2 linked regions of the Homo sapiens genome follow. The protein of the gene in region 1 interacts with the protein of each later gene in a pairwise test. Each region holds a gene or a part of one and is shown on either strand. Other genes may lie near its edges.

Evidence for each region. The genes of interacting proteins can lie anywhere in the genome.
Region 2: the proteins of WAC (region 1) and HTRA1 interact in a two-hybrid assay, tested with the Homo sapiens proteins (one study listed by IntAct).

Annotation. Positions count from the first base shown.
Region 1 is NC_000010.11:28,620,118-28,623,612, reverse strand, and holds the end of WAC (WW domain-containing adapter protein with coiled-coil), read right to left. Parts: 3' UTR 501-3,495; downstream 1-500.
Region 2 is NC_000010.11:122,504,673-122,514,136, reverse strand, and holds part of HTRA1 (serine protease HTRA1 precursor), read right to left. Parts: intron 7,447-9,464; coding exon 7,252-7,446; intron 6,768-7,251; coding exon 6,735-6,767; intron 5,482-6,734; coding exon 5,367-5,481; intron 4,042-5,366; coding exon 3,984-4,041; intron 2,168-3,983; coding exon 2,072-2,167; intron 1-2,071. UniProt on the Homo sapiens protein: Serine protease with a variety of targets, including extracellular matrix proteins such as fibronectin. HTRA1-generated fibronectin fragments further induce synovial cells to up-regulate MMP1 and MMP3 production.

The sequences.
Region 1 (3,495 bases):
TGGCAGGGATTTGGTTCAAAGATGATCGTGGATTGGACTAGAGAGGTGAACATTAAGGAAACATTTTCAAAGAGCTTGTGGGTCTTGATGGATTAAATATCGAGTGTTAGAAAAGAAGGATGACTTGATTTGGGTTTTGGGCAACTTTAACAATGATGGTGTCAATTACTAAAAAACTAAAAGAGAATAATCTGAGGCACAAACCGTGAGTTCTTTTTGGAGTGCATGCCGTGTTAAGGAAAGCATCTAAGTGGACTGTTTTTGGGAACTCAAAGAGATCAGGGCTGGAGATAATCGGGATGTAAAGTAGCACATGAAGGGGTTTTTAGAGCCAAGAGCCTGGATGAGATCTTCTAGACAGGCTGCACTTTAGGGCACTATCAAAGGTCGTGATCAGGAAAAGGAGGGTACCGCAAATTAGAGCAGGACCTAAAGAATCCCAATTTTACGTCATAATTTTCACTAAAATGTTTCAGAGACTATTGAAACACACCGACTGATTAAAATCTCAGCAGTAATCTGTATTTTAAATTTCCTTACTCAAATGCAAATTATGCATTCTAAGACTTTCAAAACACAGTTCTGAAATAACTGCACAATATAGTCAAAACATATTTATTACTTTTCAGTGTCATTTTGTACACTCCCGTACAAATACAAGAATATAGCCATATTTACAGGTATTGAAAAGAAATCTGTATATTCAAACCCAACATCTAAATACAGTAGCTGGAAGTCCTGAACTACAATAGTTCCGGTGCGCAGAGTGAATTATTTCCCGCGTTGCCCTCTCCCCTTTCAAACAGTCCCTCAAAGATATGGTGGTTTTTGAACATAATAAACTGTTTTTGGAAATGGGTAACAATTCCTGGCAAAGTTTTAAGAACCTCCTTCCCAAGATTTTACAAGTGTGAAACAAAGATTTAGAAGAAAAATAAAACTACTAATTTGGACTGTTAAAAGAAGCATAATGTCTTGAAACAGGGCTGAAGCATGTTTTTAGTCTGGAATTGCAGTCATTTTAAAATCAGGTTAGACAAGTTAGAAAAATAAAAAGCGTAGGAAAGCTGGTTCTTCAGGGGAGTCTGTAACCTTCTTTCATCAAATATATTGTTACAATACCACGACATTTTAAAAGTTTGAATAGAGACTACTGATCTTTTAAAACGGGGGGGGGGGGGGGGGGGCAGGGGGAGGGAAAGGCCACTCAAGTTCCCTAGAGGCTATTCAGTACTTCTATTTTCAAAGTATCTAAACCAAGGTACATGTTCAAATCCATAACCAACTAGATAAGGAATACTCTAGTCCAGAACATTATGCTTATTTTAATAGATATTCCCTAGTTAAGGTTAGGAGCTGGATACCTTGTATTAAGGTGCAATATTTAAAATATTTCCACAAAATTTTAGATTTTCTGTGTTTAAAAATTCACTACTGGCCAGGAGCGGTGGCTCACGCCTGTAATCCCAGCACTTTGGGAGGCCAAGGCAGGCAGATCACCTGAAGTTGGCAGTTCAAGACCAGCCTGACCAACATGGAGAAACCCCATCTCTACTAAAAATACAAAATTAGCCAGGCGTGGTGGTGCATGCCTGTAATCCCAGCTACTCGGAACGCCGAGGCAGGAGAATCGCTTGAACCCAGGAGGCAGAGGTTGCGGTGAGCCGAGATCGTGCCATTGCACTCCAGCCTGGGCAACAAGAGTGAAACTCTGTCTCAAGAAAAAAAAAAATTCACTATTAAGAAATACCAAATTAGGCATCTTCTCCTAAATATATGTGACTAATTCATTTAGGGATGTAAACTTTTTTGAAAAACAAAACATAGGTACACAGACCAGTAGACTATAAGCAAATCAAATTCAAATTTACCTAAATCACAAATTGCCATCTGATCAGGAAACATTTGCCTATTACAACAAATTGCTCACTTCTTTCCAGGAAAGATACAGTAAGGTTTCTAGCTGAACACACAGCTCTTTGGGGTTTCATTTACATGCACTAGTTAAATTCAGCAGATGTTAACAATCTCACAGAGGTATAAACATGACAATAAATTAATGACATGTCTTTTCTTACATTTAAAAAGTATCCTTAAATTACAGGAAAATATCTTCAAGATTTTAATTCCTTTTAATTACACTGGAACATTTTTGTATTTTAGAAAACACCAACACTATCGCTTACAGTTAACTTTTTGAGCTTACTGAAAAGCCTGAACATTTAACTTCCATACTTTCAATATATGCTTAAAGCACAAGAGCAATTTCAAAATTTATGTTAGCATCCGAGAATGTAGTAACATTGACATTGATGTCTAACATAAAAAATAAGCCCTTGGTGCTGCCAGTTTTGGAAGCACTTATCTGCCCCAACAGAAAAAAAAAAAAAAAAAAAATCACCAAAAAACCCTAAACCAATTTAAAGAAAAAAAAGAAGAAGAAGAAGAAACACCTTTCTAAATCAGATGGCAAGATTTTGATGGTAAAGGTTTTTTTGTGGGGGAAGAAAAGATTTTTTTCATGCGGAAACCCTTGTGATTTGATACATTACTGGCAGTGTGAAGCTAAGGCTATGTGACTAATATTTCAGCAAAGGAAAAAAAAAGTCAAGGTAATTTTATAGTAGCAATAGTTTCTTTTTTTATTTTAATATACTTTAGGAAACAATATACAAAGCTGCGCTTTCCTGCTATTTCCAGATAACAGCAGGAAGCTCCAATTACACAAATTTAGCGTTTTGTGATGGCTAAGAACAGCAGTCAGCACCAGACTTGAACAGTTAGCTACAACACAAACATCCTTCCAAATGAAATGTCATAATAGCAAGACAGGTAAACCAGGGTTTAACAAATGACAACCACTTGGGAAGTGACTTAATCATTCTTGTTGAATTTCTTATTTCATTAAATATCTCATACACAATTTCCTGTTAATACGTTTTAAACAAAACCTCCCTTAAGGAATTATTTCAATTAAGTATAAATATTCAACAAGAACAGTTCTGATAAAGAATCCCCAGGTAGTTCAAATGCTAATGTGCACTGACCGAAGGAAAAGAAAAATAACAATTTTTGTTTGTTTTAACATGTTTATTACAACAGATACAATTCACATCTGACTAGCTCTGTTTCCTCTTTCCCCTCCCACAACCACGTTCATTGGGCCATTTCCTTATATTTGAGCAATCAATGTACTTTGAGCACACATGCCTGTCCAGCAGTACTTTTAAGTCCATTCTTAACAGGGTGCAAATGGATTTCAATAATTTATACAAACAAGTAGGTTATGCTCAATCACTGCAATTTTAAGCTACTGTACACAGGAATGAAAAGGTTATAGAAAAGTGCCATAGCAACAGTGCCTTAAGAAAGGAGATAAAGAGGAGCCTTAAAAAAATGGATAAAATCAGAATTTCAGAAGGAAATGGAAACACACGGGAAATGAAAAACATTTCTCTGCAAAACAAATGGAGAAGCACTGCTCTTGATCAGGTG
Region 2 (9,464 bases), about 94 Mb from region 1:
TCTGACTTTACATGGACAGAGGCACAGCTTAGAACCTAAAAGCCCAGAGCAAACAGGATTGGACGGTGGCGAACTTAGAATAATTCAAACCATCAGTGGGTCAGGCACGGTGGCTCATGCCTGTAATCCCAGCACTTTGGGAGGCTGAGGCAGGTGGATCACCTGAGGTCAGGAGTTCAAGACCAGCCTGGCCAACATGGTGAAGCCCCGTCTCTACTAAAATTACAAAAAAAAAAAAAAAAAGAGCCAGGTTTGGTGGTGGGCACCTGTAATCCCAGCTACTCAGAGGCTGAGGCAAGAGATTCACTTGAACCCAGGAGGTGGAGGTTGCAGTGAGCCAAGATTGTGCCACTGCACTCCAGCCTGGGTGACAGAGTGGGATTCCATCTCAAAAAAAATAAAATAAAATAAAAAATAAACCATCGGTAGATTGGATTACTTTTTAAGGTTTTTTTTTTTAATAATGTTCTTTTTTCCCCACTCTTTTTTTTTTTTTTTTTTTTTTTTTGAGATGGGGTCTCAATTGTTGCCCAAGCTAGTCTCGAACTCCTGGGCTCAAGGGATCCTTCTGCTTCAGCCTCCTGAGTAGCTGGGATTACATGCATGTGCCAGGATGCTGGGCTCCTTTTGAGATTTTTAGGCTAAATCATCCATTGTGTCCACTGTAGAAATGCCTACTAACACTTGTGTGGCTTTATGACCCCAAGGAGATCAAAGGTCAAGATTGACCCCAAAGTGGGGAAGGATGTACCAGGTACTATCTGCCACGTAGTTGGCCAGATATCTGCCAGATAGTTGGCCACTATCTGGCCAACTTGCTTATAATGGGTATTGCAACTCAGAATGCAGTTCCTATAGGGGTGGGCGGAATGTTTCTGTTAAGAGGCACTTCCTTTGTGTGGTTGCCACTATAACTGTAGCTCTTATATAGCTCAGCGTCAAAACGCTGTCATGGTCCTTCATGGGCTAGCACAAGGGTCTGCAAACTTTTTCTGTAAAGGGCTCCATAGGAAATATTTTAGGCTTTGCAGTACATATGGTCTCTGTTGAAGCTACTCAACTCTGCTGTTCCAGCACAAAAGCCACCATAGATGTCATAAACCAAATTACAGTGGACACTGAAATTTGAATTTCATACAAATTTAACATGTCACAAAATACTATTCTTATTTCAGGATTTTTTCAACCATTTAAATGTTCTCATAAGTGGGAACTAAGCTACGAGGACACAAAGGCATAAGAATGATACAATGGACTCTGGGGACTCAAGGGGAAAGGCTGGGACAGGGATGAGGGATAAAAGACTACAAATTGGGTTCAGTGTACACTGCTTGGGTGATGGGTGCACCAAAACCTCACAAATCACCACCAAAGAACTTACTCATGTAACCAAATACCACCTGTTCCCCCAAAAACCTATGAAAATAAAAAATAAGTAAAAATAAAAATAAAATGCAAAAACTATTCTTAGCCCACAGCTCCATATAAAAGCAGGCAGTGGGCCAGATCCAGCCCCCAAGGCACATTTGCTGGTCCCTGGTCTCGCACTTTTCTCTGGATATTCCGCCAATACAGGTAACAAACCCTGATGGATGGTTGAGCTACTTCTTGTCATGTTACTTTGATATCACTTGGGTTATTTTTCTGGAGGTGTTGACAGGTATGGGCCTAATTGTCAGAGACATTCTGGAAGACTCCAGGAAGAGAAGGGTCCTGAAGCCTAGAAAAGGACCACCAAGTGAGGGCTTGGGGACACTGTTCCTGAAACCCTCTCTCTGGCCAGCCGGGCCATCTCAGAGACTCATTACGAGTCTGCTATTGCTCTGTCCATCTGGAGGGTCCTCGTGGAGCAAGGACTTTTGAAGACAGAAGGCACCCTCCTATGGATGAGTCCCGAGCCGAGCCAGGTCGGAAGGCCTGGCCAGCAGGAATGACAAGCAACGTCCGACCACGTCTGTCAAGGATCAACATAATCATCTGAGCCAGTAGAAAAGGAACAGCGCTCCCTCTTCCTGCTACCCCCACAGGAACAACAAGAATATTGGGAAAAGAGAAAACGACTCCAACTCACGCTTCTGCTGGGGTATCAGGAATTACTTCAATTATATACGCTCCTGAGATCACGTCTGGGAAGTCCCGGTGCCGGTCCTTCAGCTCTTTGGCTTTGCTGCTCCAGAGAAAAAGCACCCGTGTTAGTGTGAAGAAACACCAGGCCTTCCTCACGCAAAACTCAGCTCTCACCAGTTCCCGTCTTCTCCTTAGGTCTAAGGTAAAATTCCTCCAGGAATTCTGATCCTATTTTAAAATTAAAATTGCCTGTCTACCAGAGTCAAAGATTTACTTGGTAACAGCAAGGAAAGTGCTTTATTATTTATTTATTTTTTTTATTTATTTTTTTTTTTTTGAGACAGAGTCTTGCTCTGTCGCCCAGGCTGGAGTGCAGTGGTACGATCTCAGTTCACTGCAACCTACATATCCCGGGTTCAAGCAATTCTCCTGCCTCAGCCACCCGAGTAGCTGGGATTACAGGTGCCTGCCACCAAGCCCGGCTAATTTTTTATATTTTTAGTAGAAACAGGGTTTCACAAATTGGCCAGGCTGGTCTCGAACTCCTGGCCTCAAGTGATCTGCCCGCCTTGGCCTCCCAAAGTGCTGGGATTACAGATGTGAGCCACCGCACCCAGCCATCATCATTGTTATTATTTCTTAATTAATAGTAGCTATTACTAAGGAGTCAGTAAAGTACAGTGGTTGGCCTGGTTTGCAGCCCTAGCTCGGCCATTTGCTAGCTGTGTGACCTCGGACAGTTGCTTAACTTCTCTGTGCCTTCATTTCCTCACCTGCAAAATGGGGATAATAACAGTACCCTACAACATGAGTTGTGAGGATCAGATGAGATCATCCCAGTAAGGCACCTGGCCCAGTACGTGTGATACATAGTGGCTGGCATCACTGTGGCTGGTGACCCCTGCCACCACTCCCTGATCTGAGCCTGGCCACACATCAGAAGCACCTGCGCTGTCATCCCTATCCTGAAGAGGAGGAAACTGAGGCACTCAGGGGTCATATCGTTCCCAAGGTCACAAGGCAGGACATATCAGAGCAGGGACAGGAACCCAGGAAGCTGGGCACCAAGGGCTTACCATCTTTCCCTACACCTCGTAGTTCCAAAGGCAAACAACTGAGGGGACACTTTAACCTTGACAAATGGCTCCATCTTCTGGAGTGCTAAGAAAGGGACCACCATTCATAACATGTATCAAAATATATTAATACTTTCACAGTGAGTGAATCATTAATTCATCATAGTAATGAACACATTAATCTATCTGTTACTATATTCTAGTCTTTACCTACTTTACCTCTGACAGTTTTAGCCATGCCAGGTGAGTCTACTACCAGGACTCATGAGATTACACCAGAATTTTTCATCCAGTTTAGAACACCAGGATGCCATGAGCCTGCCAACCACAGGCCGCAATTCCACCAGCTCGGGGAAAACAAGCACATCAGTCATTCACTTCCCTGCGCTGGACCTGCCCTGGCATTCCTGGAGCCGCGGCCCACGAGCTGCAGAGCAACGAAAGCAGAGTGCCTAGAGCTGCGGGAGGGGCTTGGGGCCCTCCTGGAATGTGGGTTTCAACAGAATGTGGGGTAAGGAAGACGTGAGCCAGAGTGAATCAACAGCCCCACCACGCACACACTGTTCAGGCCTGCCTTCAAAGAGGAGGGCAGAACCTTCTACACCGGAGGGCCTGCTGCCAGTGAAGAAAACCAGCTCAGAATGCAAAAACACAGGTTAAAACCAAACAAAGGGGCCAAGGCTAATGACCTGTCCTCTTTCCCGATGCTACTTCATTATAAGCAGAAACTGAGACGTCTTAAGGCAGCATAAGGTTTCTCTTTCAGGGGTGCCCGTGAGCACCTTCTGAAGTTCAGGTTTATTAAAATTTAAGACACAGACACGCATCCTGTTTACCCACCTGGACGTGAGTGACATCATTCGGATACCAATATACTTCTTCTTGGTGATGGCTTTTCCTGGTGAGACAACAAAGGGACAGCAGAAGGTCAGCCCAGTTGGTGGGGGTGCTGGGGACACCAGGGGCCGGGGGCCCAATCCCCCAGGTTGCAGGAAGGGCCACAGAAGGGTACACTGAGGTTGCGGCTCAAATCCTGGTCTGGACCCCTCCCCTCTGGGGGACCTTGGGAAAGTCCCATTGTTTCAATTAATGGTCAGGTACCTGGGCATGACCCTTAATTCCTCATGGCCTCATCCTGACAGCTGGCCCTTCCCCAAGCTTGCTCTACCCCCCATATATATCTGGAATGTGACCCCTCTGTCCCACCTCCACTGCCACCACCCTTGTCTGAGACCCCAGCATGTCTCATCCAGATGGCTGGGAGAGCCCCTTAACCGGTCCCCAACTTCCAGCAACCCCTCCAGCAGACTCCCCGCAGCCATCAGAGTGTCCTTTCAGTGACATCAATCAGATCATAAACTTCCCTGTTCTTAAATGTCGTTAGGATGCAACCCAGGTCCCTCACCACGGCCTGCTGTGAGCCTGCTCGCCCGGCCTTGGCCTCTTTCCACCCCGGGGAACTCCATGCTGTCACTGTGCTCCGGCCCTCAGGCCACTTCAGGGGCCTTGTGCTCACTCAACTATGCTGAGTCCTCTGTCTTTCCTTCTGGAGTGTTCCCCCCACATCCCTGCCCGCTGGTTCCTCCTCACTCAGACCTCAGCTTGGAAGGCATTTCCTGGCCACACCATCTCCACCAGCTGCCCCTCCAGTCGCTCCCTTGACGGCCACCCTGATCCGTTTTCTTGGGAGCACTAATAGTATCTTATGTGTTTGATTATTTACTGTCAGCCTTCCCATCCCCCAACAGAACATAAAAGTCACACCGGCAAAGGCCCCTGTTGAGCCCCAGGCCCCAGTTGAGCTGTCCACTGCCAAGCTCCCTGCTTGACTTAGAGCAGATGGGGCAATAAACGTTTGCAGAATGATCTCCCTGAACCGTTTTCTCATCAGCAAAATGGGACTAGTAATTCCTAACTGATAGGGCAAAAGAATTAAGTGACATACATAAAGAAAGTGAAATAATGTACACAAGTCACCTAGGATCATGCCTGGTACATATTAGACTGACTCAAGTGACATTGCCATGATCAGAGGACAAAAATGGTGAAATGTCTGTGACCTTCTGCGAGGGATTTAGTAATGTGCATTCCCGTTCACTTCTGGATCAGAGACGGCTTGGCTAGTCCTAGGGGCTGCCGCTTTTCCCTTCCCCAAGTCCCAAAGGGCAGCTGAGCTTCAGGCCCCATCTCCGGAGTCCCCAGGGCTGTGTGGGCCTTGCCTACCTTTGGCCTGTCGGTCATGGGACTCCGTGAGGAACTTTTTAATCTTATCAGATGGGATTGCAAAGGAGATTCCAGCTGTCACTTTCAAAGTGTTAATTCCAATCACTTCACCGTCCTGAAAAGCAAGAAGGACACGGCTTACTGAATCGTGAAGCTTTACCGGCAGGTACACACCCAGAGAGAATATGCCTGAAAGAAGTCCCTGAGCTATTTCAGAGATCGAAGTGGGGAGATGCAAGGAGGGGATCCCCGTGGCAGCAGGGAGAGAGGCATCAGGACACCCAGGCAGCGCGAGCCACGCGCAGCTGTGGAAGAATCGCACATACTCCAGGTCGGCACTGGGTGCTCACCTCACGGTAAGCACAGATAGTTTCAAAATGCACGATATGATTTGCTCCTGTTTCACAAGGAATACGTTTCCAAAGGCTCAAACTCCTTTAGGTGGCTGCCCACACCTTCCTGCTTCTCCCATGTCTAATGATCTTAAGATGACTCTGCTGACTTCAGGGGGAAACAACCCTAGAGCTTAGGGCTGTCATGCTTCATTACCAGCAAAGCCATCTCCACTCCATCCCCAAGTGCTGCGCGGGGAGGCAGAGGACAGAGCTGGGAGCACAGCTGCCCCTCTGCTGGGAAGAGAAAGCTGCCAAGTGCACACTTCCCAGGAGTGCTGAGATGTCAGTACCTGATGCCAAGGCACCATCTAGGAGGTGCCATCACACTGGGCCTTGCTAAAGACAGCCCCTATAAATGGCCCCAGAGCTGCCCTCTATAAATGGCCCCAGAGCTGCCCTCTATAAATGGCCCCAGAGCTGCCCTCTAGCTCTGCTGGTCTGTGTTCTAAGGCTTCACTTTTTCTGCTCAAGTATTTAAGGGAAGACTTAAGTGATATCTTTGTGGGTGGGTAACTCCTCCTCATTCCAGCCAGGCCTTAAGGGAGGATTCCTGGCCAAGAGAAAATGTGTATGAGCCCAGCCAGCTCCTTCAGCAGCCCAGGAGATTTAATTTGGAGGAGGTGCTTTCGGTGACTGGCCAGCATTTTTAGTGACCTTCACCTTACTCCTGCATTGGCCCTGAATTTCACGGTGTTTACCTGTAACTCTGAGACACAAGTGTGTTCTCTGGCATAACATTTCCAACCCTCACCTCCGGCCTGCCTTACTCTTTCCAGAAAAGATCCGTAGGGTCATTTGCAAGCACGCAGTACATTTACAGAGCCATTTTAAAGGAATTTATAATACACTTTGGCAACCTTATGTTTGAAAAGACCCCCTGCCTCAAAAACAAACAAACAACAAACAAACAAACAAAAAACAGCGTATACATAGATAAAAACAAATGACCTAACATAGGTTTAAAAGACCTTACCAGGTTTACTAACGGGCCTCCCGAGTTTCCATACTGCAATTAAACAGAAATGAAAAGGTTACAAATCGTGTCATAACATGGTTCAATCTATGTCCCTGCCTGGTCGTTTCCTGAGCACGGTGCCTAGAGTGGGGGGCACGATTCTTCTCTGAGATTCATTCCCATTAACCTAATATTTTGCCGGAAAAAAATGACCTTAACAATTTTCAGAAAGTTTTAGAGGTGCCGTAAACAGGGAGATTTTCTCTCTGAAGCCCAGAAGCCAACTGCAATCACCCTAAAGCACCCAATACAACTTCTTCCTCCTGGGAGGAGGCTGGCTGTCCACCTGCTCCGGTGTCACCGTCCCCGCCATGTGACCCCTGCCATGCTGCTGGCACTAGAATCCACATGGCTTGGTCTAGTTCCATCCCTTCACGCAGACTACAACAAAGTCAGGGGCTAAGACCTATGCTGACTCCTCTCCCCCTGGCAAAACTCTGCCCCAATCCCCACCCGCAGAGGGACAGAGGCTCACGTTGATGATGGCGTCGGTCTGGATGTAGTCCATGTCTGAGTTGCGGAGCCCCAGCTCTTTGCCGCCTCGCTGGGTGGTGCTCACGATCCCGGTGGTGACTGTGTTTTGAAGGGAAAACGGGCTTCCGATGGCGACCACGAACTCTCCCGGCCGCAGCTCTGAGGAGCGGCCAAGCAGCAGGACAGGCAGCTTGCCCTGAAACCACAATGGCTGGCGTTGCTGAGTTGGTTTAATTTAACCAAATAGGTAAAGGCACAGATATCATGGAAAACCAAGCAGGGACAGTGACGGGCTATTTGGAAACACCAGGCCCGGTGGGGAACTGAGCTCACAACTAACATCCCTTTGCTGCGGGCAGGACTGGATTTCCCTCCCACCCGTAATCCACACATTGCAAGCCGTGCGGGAGCCAGTGAACACTGAAGCCACACACACACCAAGGAAACCGTGGGGAGGTAACTGGAGGCCAAGTCGGGGTCTCATCACATCTTGAAGCTATCAGCACAGACTCACTCTGAAACCTTGAGGCCAAGAGACAGAGGAAGACAACATGAATTTAGGGTTTGGGGTGAGACTGCTGGGGATGGCCCTAGAGAACCAAGCCCCAGGGAAGGATCCCAAGCTACAGGCAGTGAAACCTGCCCCGACTCATCATGTGCACATCCGTCCTGAGGCCTGGAATATTTGGGGTGCTCTGCGGGCAGGGAACTGTACTGACTCAGGTGCACGCCTATGCTGAGTACAGGGCCACACTGGTCAGGGGCAGGGATGGAGCATGGGGACAGCAAGACCGAATAGGTAGGCTGTCTCTCCTCTCCTGAAACGGCCCTCTGTCAGCCACCTGTGCTTCCTGGTCTGGGCAGGCTAATTGGCCAACTCCAGAAGCCCTGATCTCCAGCGTCCCACAAAGGCCAGGCAAAGCCAGGAGTCTCAAACAACTCTGCACAACAAAATGGAACAGAAGCCAGCTCCAGGGTCACCCAGGCCAAGGAGCTGGGGGGAACCACAGAAGGGCCTCCCTAGCTCTATCAGGGAAGGCATCGGGGCCCTTTCCCTCTCTGCCTTCCTCGGAGCCGAGCAGACCTCCCGAGTTCCTTCAGCCTTTATTCACTTAGAACGAGCAGCTGCCCTGAACAACATGGACCAGGCCCAGAAATCAGACAGCCACCCCAGCCCTCGTGGGAACTGCAACTCCAGAGCCTCACATTCGTCTATCTCAACAAAGAAAGAGCCAGGGGACCAGTGGGGTGGGGCAGGTGGAACCCAGGGGTTACTTGAGTCATCTCCTCCACCAGGGATGGAGCAGACACTAGCTGATGAGGTGGGGTGACCACCATGCCCATTTAACAGATGAGGAAACTGAGGGTCCAAGATTCTGGGTGACTCGAGACAGAGCAGGGTTTGAAACCTGGGACTGGGATCGGAAAAACAGACTCTCTCATCCACTACACAGTGCCACGCCACACCACAAATATCCCCCAACACACACCAAATAAGGAAGGTGCTGGGTGAGAAAGCTCACGAAGGGAGAAAGGGATATGAAGACAGAGTCCAAGACCTAAAACTGACTATACGAGACTGAGGAGGAGGAAGGTCCCTCAGATCACAGATACCAAGAGGACCAGGAGAGCACTGTCCATGGTCAAGAGCACACACCTGGGGCCAGGCTGCGTGATTTAGATGAGGGCCTGAGCTTATGACCACTCAGGTCCTCAGTTTTCTCATCTGGAAAATGGGACTAACGTACAGCTACCTCAATGGTCCACTGTGAGAATGAAGCAACTTAAGATCTGAACAGCTCTTTGAATACCCGCTGGCTCCTGTAAGCACCATCTAGGTGTTGGTTTTGCTGTGAGCATCTGGGCCTGTGCAAATCCAACAGCGGGAACCACCAAACACCTTTCCACAGCCAGCCCGTGTCACCCAGCCATGGTAAAGGTCTGCCCTGACAGTGGGTGACCCTTTCCCTGTGTGGCTGCCTGAGGCTGGAGCATGCAGGGCAGCTGCGGGGAGGTGCAGGCCTGCCGCATCTCTACTCAGCCCCATGCTCACTTCCCACACTCCTCAAGCTCATCAGCATCCAGCAGCACACCAGCGAGCTCAGCGCAGTGTGTTTACTCTGGGCCTGGGCCAGCAGCCCCTGCCAGGCATGACTTCAGCACTCATGGCGTGCAGGCGGGGCAGGAGGCAGGGCTGGGATGTGCACTAGGCCA